Linked DNA regions of Homo sapiens. The protein of the gene in region 2 purifies or fractionates together with the protein of the main gene of each other region. This does not show direct contact. Each region holds a gene or a part of one and is shown on either strand. Other genes may lie near its edges.

Region 1 (6,980 bases), on a different chromosome or scaffold from region 2:
TCCCAAAGCCGCCCCCACCCCCACCCCACCGCAGCCTCTGCCTTCACCACTAGGGGTCTGTCTCTCCAGTCTCTGCAGGGAGGCCACCTTCCCTGGGGCTCTCCCAGACTCTGGCTTACTTTACTCAAGTGGTCCTCAGCTCCGATACTAAGATTCAGTCTGTTGAACTTAGGAGGGTACCAACCCACCACCCTGGCCCTGACCCCAGCATCTTTTCAGACCAAACCTGGCAAAGCCAGCTCCTCCCTATCCCACTCCAAAGCTGTCCTCCACTCTCCGTTACAGAAACACCTGCCAGCTCACTCCCTGCTAGGATTCCGAAGTCCCTCCAAGCCCTAGGTCGGCCTGAGCAGCCTCAGCCAGTAGGAGCTCTCCTATGGGAATGAAGGCTGGGAGCATGTTTAGAAAGCAAAGTCCCCAAGTTTAGGATGAGCCCCTCACCCCCATTCCTTTAAAAAAGAGCTTCCCTTTCTGCCTCCTCACTTCCTTCAGCCTGGGAGGGTTCCACTCCATAATTGGCTTGTTTACTGCCACTTTGAGGGTTTCTGAATGGCAGAGATGGGAGGAAAATTTTGCTGGAAGAAAAGGAGTGTGTGCCTTGAGCTTTGAGGCTGATGAGTAAACCCTCCAAATGCCTCTCTAACTACCTGCGAAATGGCCAAGAACCCAGGTGAGAAAAAAACACAAGGCAGTGCAAGGCAGCTGAAGATTTCCAGCAGACCACTGGAGGGAAGCTTACGCTGGCGCCACAATTACCAAAACTTAATCTGCTTGCTTCTGCTGAATAGTCGAAAGCGCTACTTGGCATTGTTCTGAGAAGCGAGCCAATTAGAGACCTCCCAATTCTGCTTCTGTGGGCTAGCACCTCCAGTAACATGACTCCCCTGCTCAAAAACCTGTAGCTCCCAAGCTGGGAGCAAACTTAGCGTCCACCACCGGGCCCCAAACTACTCCAGCCATTGACCACTAAGCATCAGAGCCACTATACCCACCAAACAGGACCACCTGCTGGGCCACAAGCACACTTTTGCTTCTCCACTCCGGTTCTCTGCTTGCGGGGTTCCCTCTGCCTCAAGCAGCAAGCCTCTCTACCTTTTAAGATTCTCCTCAAATGCTCCTTCCCCTGTGGATTCCCCAATTTCCCAGCCCCTTCCTGACTCCACCCCATACTCTAAATCTCCATCGCCCTGGCCTCTTTTCAGGCATCTGTCTTACTCTGTCTTGCTTCAATAGCTCCCTGAGGTCTTGCTCCAGCCCTCCAAGGGAGCGAGTATGTCTTATTCAGCTTTGATTCATCAGGAGCACACAGCACACTACCTGGCAGACGGCAGACACTTGAGAATGGGTCTACCGCTCCAAAATCGTTCACCTCAGAAGCATAGGAAGCGATAGGCAAAGGGACACAGAGTCACACAAACAGAACACTAAAGCCAGCAGACACAAAACACGCCAGGGGAAAAGAGGCGTCAAGAGGAAATTGAACCAGGGGAACTACATCTGGCCTTACCCTTCTTGAACTCCTCCAGCATGGCATCCAACTTGGTGTCATGGAAGACAAAGTGCACCGGGTGGTTATAGAAGCGAGTGATAGTCTTGAGGGGGGTGCAGTCATCGGGGTCCACAAAGGCCAAGTCTTTGACGTAGAGAATATCTACAATATTGGACTGCTCGTCTTCGAACACCGGGATGCGAGTATAGCCGCTTTCCATTATCTCCGACATGGTGTTGAAGTCCAGGATGGCATCGCTGCGGATCATGAAGCAGTCCTGGAGCTGGGTCATGATATCCTCTACAGTTTTGGTCCGTAGTTCCAGGGCACCCTGGATCATATTGAGCTCCTCTTTCACGAGGTCATTATAGGGCTCCGTCACCTTCAACATCTCCATCAGCTTCTCCCGGTTGTAAACAGTGCGAATCTCCTGGCCCAGAAAAAAGTCCAGGAGCTTGCTAATGGGAAAACTGAGGGGGAAGGTGAGTAGCATAAAGAATTTGGTGAGAAGGATGGTGTTGGCACCCACAGCCAGCCCATGTCGGGAGCACAGGGCCTGAGGTAGGATCTCCCCAAAGATGACAATGCCAATGGTGGAGGAGGCCACCGCCATGAGGCCGGACCCGATGAGGTTGTCTAGAAGGATTGTGAGGGAGGTGTTGACCAGCACGTTCCCTAGGAGCAACGAGCAGAGAAGGTAGTTGCCCTTGCGCCGGATGGGCTCAATCTTGCGGGCATAGCGCCTCTCCTTCTCGGTGCCACAGTTCTGCACGATGCGCAGCTCCATGGGGTCCAGGGCCATAAGCCCGAGGTTGAGGCCAGAAAATATGCCCGACAGCACCAGCAGCACCGTAATTAGGAGAATGTGCAGCCAGAGAGGCAGGAACCTCCCAGGCTCCTCCACCATGAAGAGCAGTGAGTCCTTGTCCGTCCACTTCAGCCAGGGCCCGTCGGGCTGGGCCCGGGTGCACAGTGCATACAGCTTCATGCTCTCGCTCCTCCGGAGGAACTTGGTGAGCACCACCAGCACGCCGGACGTGTTCCCGCGGCTCACGTTGACCAGCTGCTGGACGACCAGGTCCTTGGTGAGCTCGAGGCAGCTGGTGGACTTGTGGAGGGTCTCGGCATCGTCCACCTCGGTGAAGGAGATCAGGTTGCTGGAGATGTTGCCCAGGCTGTAGCCGTACAGCCTCAGGTTCACGGTGCTGCCCTCGGACACGAAGATGATGCCATCCGGGTTCGTCCCACACGACTTGTTGCAGCTCGCCAGCCTCATGCCCACGATCGTGCCCTGCTGGGGGCTGCCCTGGCCCCGGGCCCCCAGCGCCCACAGCAGCACCAGCAGCACCGGCGCCGCCAGGAGGAGGCGCCCGCGGGCCGGTCCGCCGACCGGGCGCCCGCCCCCGCCCACCGGCGCCATGTTGCTCTGGCTCTGCCGCCGCCGCCGCTCCCCGCGCCACGCCGCGCGGCCCCGGTCCGCACCGCAGCTCCGGCCGCTCCGCTGCCGCCGAGCCAACTGCCCGGGCCGCGAGCCTGACGTCAGGTCAGCGCCCCGCCCGCCCCGCCCCGCCTGCCCACGCCCCTCATTTGCATTGGAGGCCCCGCCCCCGGGGCTCGCTGCTTGAGCGCCCGCCCTTAAGGGGGTACAGTCGCTTAAGGTGGAGCAGCGCCGCCGCGCGAGAGCCGCCAGCGGGTACCCGCCCAGTGCTCCGCCTCCGCGCCCTTCCCCGCCTTTCTCTGCCAGTGGGGCCAGCTCTCCTTCTCCGGGACCTGGTCTCCTAGCTACGCCGTTCCTGTTCCTCGGCCTCGCACGGCCGCACGTGGGAGGCTCCTCTCCCGTCCCTCACCTGCAGCTAGGGGTGGCCCGCTCTGCAGGCAGGGCGAGAAAAGTGCTTTTCCTGATGTAGAAAAAGAAAAAGGAAACCTGAGGGCTTAGGCTGGCATTGCAGCCTGCCCCTTGGAGACTTTTCTGGCCTCCTCACTGCTGAGATTTTTGCCGACCTTGTCCTAAGGCCAGAAGTAGGTTACCCCAGCCCCAGCCCCAGCCCGACGATGCTTCCATCAACCAGTGGCTGCCTGATGTGGAAGGCAAATCTGGGGAACTAAGGTTATAGAAGGGGCAGGCTCTGGCCTAGACTTCTCTCCTGTCTCTTCCATTTAGGCATAGATATTTATTGAACACCTACTTTGTACCAGGCACTTGTTCTAGGCTCTGACAATAGAGCAGTGAACAAGCCAAAGTCGCTGCCCATTGGGGTTTACAGTCTAGAACAGAAAACAGGAGATAAACAAGTAAACACATATATTCATTAAATCCCCCCAACAACCCTCAGAGTTAGTAGAATTATTTCCATTTAGAGATGCAGAAATTGAGCCGAGACAAAAATCCTGGTGCCTCCATACTGTCATCTCCCAGCCCATTTCTCCATCTGTAAATGGGGGTAAGAATGACAGAGCATTACTTCGCTAAGCTTGCGGGATTGTGGACCTAGACATTGAACATGACAGGACAGCTCTTTAGAATATTCTTTGGCTAGGTAGTAGTTGTTGCTACCTGCCTTCCAGGACCAAACTCCTAACCCCAAATTGTGGTGATTGATCAGCTGGGCAGCTGCTTGTGGACATGAGCAGGCAGGCGCGGCAGTGGGCCTATCCCTGAAATGACTGCTTCCTGAATGGCCCTAGCCCTGTGTCAGTAGGGTGTATAAGGAAGACCACAGCTGCCCGCCCTGTGAGGGGGAAGAAGACAGACAGATAAACATCCTTACAATAATTGCACAGGTGCACAGAGAAGATCAGGTACTGGGTTGACCACCAGGTCTCACAGCAAATCTTTTGCCAGTACTGAAGACACAGAACCCACTTTACTCCCTTCCCGCACTGACACTTGTATTTATTTTCATTTTGGTGTAATGTTTGCTAATAAAAGCAGCAATCAGTACCAAACGGAAGGAGCCTAAACAGAAAGGATCACACAATGTTGTGGGAGGAGGTGTGGTAGCAGAGAGGCCCTGACTCAAGAAAGCCCTGTTAGCTGGGATTGAGGGTTCTGTAAACTAGGCCAGCCTGGAGAAGTATGTTGCTAGTAGGGGCCCCACTCATAGCGGATACTTTGCAGTGAGTGCCCAGCAGGTCAGTTTTTTCGAGGAATAGGAGCCTTGGAATGGGCACTGGCTGAGACAGAACAAAAGCAGAACCTTGACTGCCTGTTCCTTCCCTGTCTCCACCAACCAGGAAGAGCTACCTGAATTGCCTCAAAGCAAACCCAGCTCTCCTCATCTCCTAGTGAGCTGTAACACCAGCGCCCTGCTCCACCCCTACCCCCACCTCCCATACTTAGAAACTTTCCCATTCTATTATCAATCAATTGGCTATTTTTTCCCTTTTTCTTATGATTTTATTTTTTTCTCTATTATGTCTTTTTTCTGCTTAAGTACGAATTGGCTCCTTTTATTTTACCCTTTTCAGGCTGTCTACACTCAGAAGCTCTGTTCATATGCACTGAGTCTAATGACAGAAGCCAATAAAGAAAAGGAAAAATAAGTTTTTTAGATATTTAGGTTAAATGTGGGATTACCAGCTTGGGCAACATAGCAAAAACTCATTTCCACTAAAAATTTAAAAAATAAAAAGTTAGCTTGGCATGATGGTGCACACCTGTAGTCCCAGGACCTTGGGAGGCCAAGGCGGGCAGATCACCTGAGGTCAGGAGTTCAAGACCAGCCTGGCCAAGATGATGAAACCCCGTCTCTACTAAAAATACACAGTTAGCCAGGTGAGGTGATGCACGCCTGTAGTCCCAGCTACCCGGGAGGCTGAGGCAGGAGAATCACTTGAACCCGGGAGGCGGAGGTTGCAGTGAGCCGAGATCACGCCACTCACTCCAGCCTGGGTGACAGAGCGAGACTCCATCTCAAAAAATAAATAAATAAATAAATAAATAAATAAATAAATAAATAAAAATAAAAAGATAAACACAGTATCACTTGTTGGAGAAGGCACACGGGGCCCAGGCCGAAGTCCAGGTTCATTTGCTGCCAGCTTGCAACCCTGGTTAGGGAGTCTGCCTTTTCTGCATCTGCCATGTCGAAATACCTCTCCCACCGTAGGGACAGCATGGAGATAGCAGTCTATTAACATGCTGAGTCAGGAAGCTTGGATGCATGTGTGGCTCTCTGTTAGCCAGGCGGTGAGAATGGCAGAAAGCAAACGTGCAAGCGAGGAGCCTCTCTCCTTTGGGGGCAGATAAAGGCATGATCAAACCTGTTTTCTCTGCCTCAAGGTGGCAAGTCCTTACTTACCTAGTTGCTTCTATTTGCAAGTAGAAATTGCCCAGAGGAGTCCTGATCCTGGACCCCTGAGCATGTAACAGCACCCTAGTCATGAGATCCTTGGAGCTCACTGCTTCTTTCCAGGTGTAAGCCCTATGGCAACATGGCTACACCTCCCATAATTGAGCCCACTCCCTTCTGGTTCTGTGCAGGGAAACAGTCTTAAAGGCTTAGTGCCCCTTCACTTGTACCTGGCATCATGCTGATGCTGGAGATCCGATGATGAACAAGGATCCTGAATTAGTAACCTGGGATCTAATCCTCCCAGGCTAGCTTCTTAGCCCTCTTCACCCTCTGGGTCTCCAAGATGGGGTGCTGCTGGCAGAGGAGCTGCTGGCAGAGAAGCTGCTGGCAGAGAAGCTGCCCTTCCGCTAGTGGGGCTCAGAGCCTGAGGCCTGCCCTGGCCCCACAATGGGTAGAATCCCTCTGGGTGCACCGTGGGCCCCGGGGTTGGAGAACCTGGTTGGGGACCATGAGACATCTTTTCAGGGTGAGCTATGCCCGTCGTCAGTACATGCAGTGGCCTGTTCACCGGCTGCCCATGAGTCTACTATGATAGCCCTGAACATCTGCAGGACTCATCCATGCAGTTAAATTGTCTCAGGAAGGAAGGAGCAGTCAACCCTCTACAGAAGGACAGAGTTAGCGTGGAGTTAGCTAGGGTGGTGCTCAAATCCCAACTCAGGTCATCCCAGCAAGTGGGGGCATGAGGACTTGGATAGGAGGATGTCATGATTTCTGCCTGAGACAAATGTTTAATTGAGCCAGAGGAGGGAGTGAGAGCATCACATCAGTGGGTCCAGGCCAAGGAAGTCGAATGCCAGAGCAGCAAAGGTGAAGGGGTTTGTATTAACTATGTAAGTGGGCTTCAAGCTTCCTCTGGCCATAGGACAAATTGTTTTTCTTGGGAGCAGGACCATGGAAGGCAGGATACCCCACCATGGAGGTTCAGAGCACAGCTTTGAAGGACCCTGGGGGCTGGCTTGGCTGCTGATTGCCTGTGTGACCTGGGACTCTGGGACATTCTCGAGTGTTGAGTGAAATGATGAGCCATAAGTACTTCACAAGTGCCTGGCCCATAGTAAGAGCTCAATAAACATGCCCAGTCACCATGATAATGATGAAAATGATGTGGCCAGGATCATTTTTTTTCTTTTTCT
Region 2 (7,024 bases):
CACAAAGGAGCAGAAAAACAGCTTTTCTAGATCAGTACACTAAACCCAGCCAAGAATCTGCAAAAATGCTACTACACCGCTTCACAAGCAACACAGTCCCTTCACTACTCATTGGGTTGCACGATGTCTCTCTTCTACCCTGTTATGGCCTGTGGACACATACTCACTAGGCATCATTGTTGGTTTTAAACCAGGGATTTTTTTTTTTTAATCTCAAAAAACCTAGTAATAACAAGGCAATCAGTGGTTAAACTGAACTTTACATATAGGGGGCAGTTTGGAAAACACATACCACAAGCATTTCTCAAGTCGAAAATATGTGAATTTGCTGCTGCTCCTTTGACGGTTCCTGAAAATTCAGAGTACAAGTCCTAAAATAAAAATTTTAAGCTACCAGCATTCTCTGATACTAGACAGAAAATCAGAGTAACGCTACAGCCCACAATTCTACAGGGTGTAAAAAGTACGCTCACTGCCTGGACATCTTTATTGATGGCCTGGAGTCCTCCCTTTTAGAAGACAAGTTTCTGGGATAACCACTTAGCTTCATTGGTTAGGGAAGAGAAGAATTCGACTCTCAGGTAAGTTGAGAAGAGACTCCTCTTAAAATGCCATTTCTCCACTAATTTATCAAAATAAAAACAAAACAAAAGGCTCTTGGCTACTTTGCCTAGTATTAGATAGGGTTTTGAAGAAACTAACATGAACACCCTTTCATCAGTAAAGACTAAAAACCACCTGGAAAATATATATATATATATATATATTATATTATATATATATATATATATATATATATATATATATATATATATATATATATATATATATATATATATCACTGCTGTTTTTTTGGTGTTGTTTTTTGTTTTTTTTTTTTTTTTATCTAAAAGTGCCCAGGTGGGCTTAAGGCTGCCAGACTGCACGCACATCTACAGCAACAAGGGCTTCTATTCCATCTACAACTTGGATCGGGGGAAAAGGGAGATGTAGGAGAGGAAGGAAAAAAGAGGGGAAAAATATACCACCAACCCTCCCCCACAAAAAAAGGGAAAAAAAAAATCCCACCACAGGGAGATCTATGTGCCAAGCATAATGGAAGAGTGTGCTCCCCAAACAGATGGTTTTGCACAGGCTAATGTTCTGCTGGTTTTCCTTAGAGACCTATTTTGAAAAAGTTTAAAAAGACAGGAGATTTCAAAATAATTCAATCCTGGCAGAAATTCAAACTCCAAAACTAGGAGCAAAATCATCCTTCACTGAATTAATTCCTTTTCTCTTTCTCTTTTCTTAAACATTTTATTCATTTTATAGAGAGATTTCTTTTTTGTTTGCTTTTGTTCCAATCATTAGGAGAGTGGTTGAGGAGTACTGAATCCATCACTACTTTGATGACACAGGTAATATTCCAGATTCACATTTCCAGGTACCAAGAGTTCCCTCTAAATGGCACAATCAAGTCAGCCTTCGTTTACATTTCCTTCTACTGAACACAGCAATGCCCATTGGTATCTCTGAAGCGTAATCGCATCTTAGGTCGGTATTTCTCCAAATAAAGCAGCTGTTTGGAATTGAACGCTCCCCTTCTTTTTCTGAAAATACAAGAATGGCAAACTTTATCATGTAAAAAAAGAGCTGTCTGATTCACTGAAATGCATTATTTACATCCTAAAGCCTTTCTAATTCCACACAGCTGAAAACCAGCATATTTCCCATACTACAACAATTCTTAAAGAGCTAAGTTGCAACATGAACTTTCTAAGCCCTCCTAGAAGGAATAGAAAAATTTTTCTTGCTGACTGTCATTATAGTCTATTAACCATTTAATAAAGATCAGAATAGTTTCTACTTTCGTTTTCTTTTTTTAAAGGAAGGGTTGAAAGGGAAAGGGCAAGACAAAAATTGTCAAAGAATTCTGGATAACAAAATAGCATGATTCGTTATTCCAGATCAATGTCAAGATCCTGTCTGTGCACTACCATCCTGATTTTGTCCCTGAATAGATCACTTAAGAGTCCCAGGTGAGGCCAGGCGTGGTGGCTCACGCCTGTAATCCCAGCACTTTGGGAGGCCGAGGTGGGCGGATCACGAGATCAGGAGATTGAGATCATCCTGGCCAACATGGTGAAACCCCGTCTACTAAAAATACAAAAATTAGCTGGGCGTGGTGGTGCGTGCCTGTAGTCCCAGCTACTTGAGAGGCTGAGGCAGTAGAATCGCTTGAACCCAGGAGGCAGAGGTTGCAGTGAGCCGAGATTGAGCCACTGCACTCCAGCTTGAGCAACAGAGCGAGACTCCATCTCAAAAAAAAAAAAAAGAGTCTCAGGTGATTAACTGCTCCTCTACACATTCTTCTTGCCTCCTCCTAACAGAGAATTATATTTGGAAGGTATTTGGAATCTATTAAAAGGGGCATTTTTGAGATTCCTAGATACTCAAAACAATATACTGGACACAGTCTATAATGTCCAAATTAGAAAACTTTTGAATCTGGAAACCAGCTGTACTGAGTCTCTATCACTTGCTCTAAATTTTTTACATCTTCAAATAATACTTCAAGCCAAAAAAAGCAAATTATCCCATACTATAAATGAATATCCCTTCCATAATTCCTTCCTCATGCATGATCTTGCTTTCTGTGTTTCTGAACACAAAAACTTCATACTCACTGTCTTATAAACTGAACTGCATCTTCGTACTTCATTCCACATTCAATCAAAGCAAGTGCAACCAGCACAGGTGCCCTGCAGAAAGAAACCTGTATGTAAGTATCCATAAGTCTTGGAGTGAAAGGATTTTTAAAAACCTGTAACTGCATATTACCAATGCAACGCATGAGCTTTCTTTTTCCTGTATACTAAAGTAGCTGGTATCTGCCTAATACAGTAAATATATCTCATCATCATTAATTCTATGATTTTTTTTTTTGGCGGGGCAGGGGACAGGGTCTCGCTCTATCACCCAGGCCAGAGTGCAGTGGCACAATCACGGCTCACCGCAGCCTCAACCTCCCAAAGCTCAGGTGATCCTCCTGCCTCAGTTCCTCAAATAGCTCGGACTATAGGTGCCCGCCACCATGCCCAGCTAATTTTTGATTTTTAATAGTTAGTAGAGACGGGGTTTCTCCGTGTTACCCAGTCTGCTCTTGAACTCCTAGGCTCAAGCAATCTGCCTGCCTCCGCCTCCCAAAGTGCTGGGATTACAGGCGTGAACCATAGCGCCCAGCCTGATTATCTACTTTTAGTAAAGCACTAAATTCTAAACCTTAAGAAATCTTTACTCTTTAAAACATCACATTATATATTAAATTCTCTCATCACTAGATATGATCAAAAATCCTTCATTGGCCTTTAGCCATTATCACAGTAAAATAAATGACCAAACATATTACTTATCTCCAATGTGTCAGAATTTTCATTACCAATTGATTTTAATATTTCCTTATCAAATGCTAAAAAGGTGCTAGACGTTTTCAAGAAAATCCTTTTGATGAGCTAGGAAAATGCCCAAGAATTGATGACTAGAAGAAGTTCTATCTTTTTAAAAAAATTTAACAAAGGAAATGATGTTTTTATAAAGCCCATTACAGGGCACCAATTTTGGGCTACCTAAAACTAGGATAGCTACTAGTTATAAAACTGCCAACTCACGTTACAACATTATCTTCAACCTTCAGGATAAGGACTAAAACTTCTAACCTTATGAACAAACAGTACCACACTACAAAAAAGGAAATAGCAAACAAAAGGGCAGAGCAGAACTAACAGCTTGAGTAATCACCACCTTGAGGCAATGGCAGCCTACACTAATGTTTTGAGTCAAAGTGTGCATCCTAAATTGGCATTTAATCTGCTGCTGATGACAGCGTTGCAACACCATTCTAAGCAATGCTCAGGGGAAAAGGTTTTAAGATCAAAGTCAATTCTTGTCCATACATCTTCTTTCAAGAGTTTAAAGTTCAGATATCTGCTATCTATTAACTTCCCATTCATCTCAGTCCAAAATTAACCATGTATAGATTCATCAAACTCTAAAATTATTTTAATTTTGTTGCCAATTTCAGTGACCTGAACTTTTGATTACTTGAAATAGGGAGAAAAATAAAACACCCACAATCCAGGCTGGCATCAGAATCAGACAACCAGATGAAATGAACAGGCTCTTTTGAGAAATCATTACACTAGTTTTTCCTCTCATTTCCTTTCCTTTCAGGTAATTTAATGTTATTTAGTATAATATATGCAAATGTCTACCAAAGTGAAACTTTCAACTAACTTAGGCATGGTAATGAATTCAGACAAAAAGGGTAATAAAGGTAAGAGTTTACCTTCCCAATCCTGCAACACAATGCACTGCAACACAGCAACCTGGCTCTTCACGAAATTTGGTTTTTAACAGGTTTAACCAATCATCTACTATCTGATTAGGGGGTGGAGCTCCATCATCAAATGGCCAATCCTGAAAAGAAATGACCTTTTACATTAAATTGATATTTTCTCCATGATTAACATCCTAATACAGAATACCTGCACACAGTACACACGGCAGGCCTAACTGAACTAACTGCACTATATATACCTATTGTTAACACAATTCTGATCATTGCTGTAAAATGATCCAGGATTGAAATTAAAGTTTGCCAAATAAATTACCCTTCTCAATGCAGTGTCGCACACATCTGAATTTACAAAAACTTACAGAAATCTCTATCAGAGTCATAAGAGCTAGTGTTCTCCCAAAAATGATATCTGAATAGAGTAGTAATTAGACATAATAGACAAAACTGTAATTAAAGCCAAGACAAAGTAACAGAGGACACAGCACATGTCAACATGATTTAAAAGTCCACTCTGGCAAAGCATACCAACTGGTGTCTCATTGGTCTCTACAGATAATTGAAGATTATAATTCAAGATAACTAAGTTATGACATCTTTAGAGAAAGGTTATCTGATAAGAAATCTCCAATAGTTAGTAAATCATAACAGAAACAAACTACCATCTTTGTGCTTATTAAAAGGCAAGCAGTGAGTATTTTTAAAGTGCTTACTAAATTATATATGTCCCCATTTAACAAGGACAGGGCTGCATGACAGGGTCCTGGGCAAATGGAGACCATTTTGTCAAGTATCCCTTTCTCTTTCTGTATTCACCTATTTGGGCTATCTTTCAATTAAGACTAATCCCACGAGCATTCACAGTATAGGCAGGGGTTTATCTTCCTCACTACTTAGCAAGAGGTCCTAAGAAACCAACACAAATGGGGAGTGGAGGAGGGGGACTGGGGGCTGACATTTTACAAGCCTTCCCTCCTGCCATCTAAGCTTCAAAGATAGAAATGCAAAAACACTGTTAGGAATTTTTTTAAAAACATAAGGCTATTCTAATGAGATTGGATAAGGACACTTTAAGATATTAGGGGAGGAAAAAGAGAAAAGTGACAGAGCATTAAATTGATTCTGCATTCATTATTGGCACCACTAGAACACTTCATGTAGCCCATTAGCCAAAACAGTACATGATTGAGTTGACAACTACGCCCCATAATTAAAGGACTGTGTTATTATAAATGTCACTAGAGAGTTTAACTGTAAATAGCAATAAAACCAGTACCTTAGTCAAGAGCTTACTTCCTCTAATACTCCCTAAAATGCACCTAGTTAAGAAACAATATAAAACATGCTTCACTTACTCATATAAGTAGTGTCTATTTTTAAAAAAATCATTAATCATTTAGAAACATCTGAACCTCAAATTGATACAGCTAAAACCACCATTAGTCTATTCCAATGTGTGTCTGGTTTGCAAGAGCATTCAGAGGACTGACAGGCCTTATTTGGGGATATCCTCTTACCATGAAATGTTCCAAAACCCTCCTCACCTAGCAAAATTAGATTAACTCTTAAAATCTCTGTCTGGGAAAAGGAAATTCCAAGCTTAAGGCTAAATGCCCTTGTTTTTTCAAGTGTAAGTTAAACCTTTCATTTTATCTGATCATAGCTATTTATTTATTTGTTTGTTTGTTTGTTTTTAATGACTTATTTTCCTCTGGGTAGATACCCAGTAATGGGATTGCTGGATCAAATGATAGTTCTACTTTTAGTTCTTTAAGGAATCTCCACGCTGTTTTCTATAGTGGTTGTACTAGTTTACATTCCCACCAGCAGTGTACAAGTGTTCCCTTTTCACCACATCCCTGACAACATCTATTTTTTTTTTTAATTTTTTGATTACGGCCATTCTTACAGGAGTAAGGTGGTATCATATTGTGCTTTTGATTTGCATTTCCCAGATCACAGCTATTTAAAACAAAACAAAAACCTAAATTTAAAGGCCTGGAATAAATCTTAGGCCTACCATTATCTTCCTCAAACTAGTTCAAGTTCTTTAGTTCATTTCTATTTCACAAAGATGTTTACCAACATTACTGACTCAAACAGACTATGGTCAATCCAGTCATTTTCTCACTCTGCCATCTGTCAAAACAAGTTGATTTTTGCTCACTAGAGAACATATTCATAATGCAGCAAAATAAACTTGTATGCAGCTTATTTTCGGAAGTTTAAATTTTATTACTACTTTTTAAACACAGGGCTGCATTTGACATGTTTACACTCATTCCCAGTGATTTCCAGCAGTGGACAGTAAAGTCATTTAGAAATTTGACTGCAAGCAAATTATTACCATGCCAAACTATTAAAACACATTATTGACTGATTGACTGACAAGGTCTCTGTCACCCAAGCTGGAGCACAGCAGCACAATCATGGCTCACTGCAGCCTTGACCTCTCGGGTTCAGGTGATCCTCCCACCTCAACCTCCCAAGTAGCTAGGACTATAGGTGCATGCCATCACGTCCAGCTAATTTTTGTATTTTTCGGAGAGACAGGGTTTCACCATGTTGCCCCACTAGTCTTGGAACTCCTGGACTCAAGTGATCCACCTACCTTGGCCTCCCAGAGTGGTGGGAACAGGCATGAGCCACCACACAGGGCCCTAAAACACATTTTTTTAAAACACATTT

What was found. The genes of interacting proteins can lie anywhere in the genome.
Region 1: the proteins of PTP4A2 (region 2) and CNNM4 purify together in Homo sapiens (affinity purification with mass spectrometry; 7 studies listed by BioGRID and IntAct, with this or other methods). This does not show direct contact.

Annotation. Positions count from the first base shown.
Region 1 is NC_000002.12:96,756,929-96,763,908, reverse strand, and holds the start of CNNM4 (metal transporter CNNM4 precursor), read right to left. Parts: upstream 3,008-6,980; 5' UTR 2,910-3,007; coding exon 1,508-2,909; intron 1-1,507. UniProt on the Homo sapiens protein: Probable metal transporter. The interaction with the metal ion chaperone COX11 suggests that it may play a role in sensory neuron functions. May play a role in biomineralization and retinal function.
Region 2 is NC_000001.11:31,907,369-31,914,392, forward strand, and holds part of PTP4A2 (protein tyrosine phosphatase type IVA 2), read right to left. Parts: intron 4,459-7,024; coding exon 4,328-4,458; intron 2,745-4,327; coding exon 2,670-2,744; intron 1,593-2,669; coding exon 1,484-1,592; 3' UTR 1-1,483.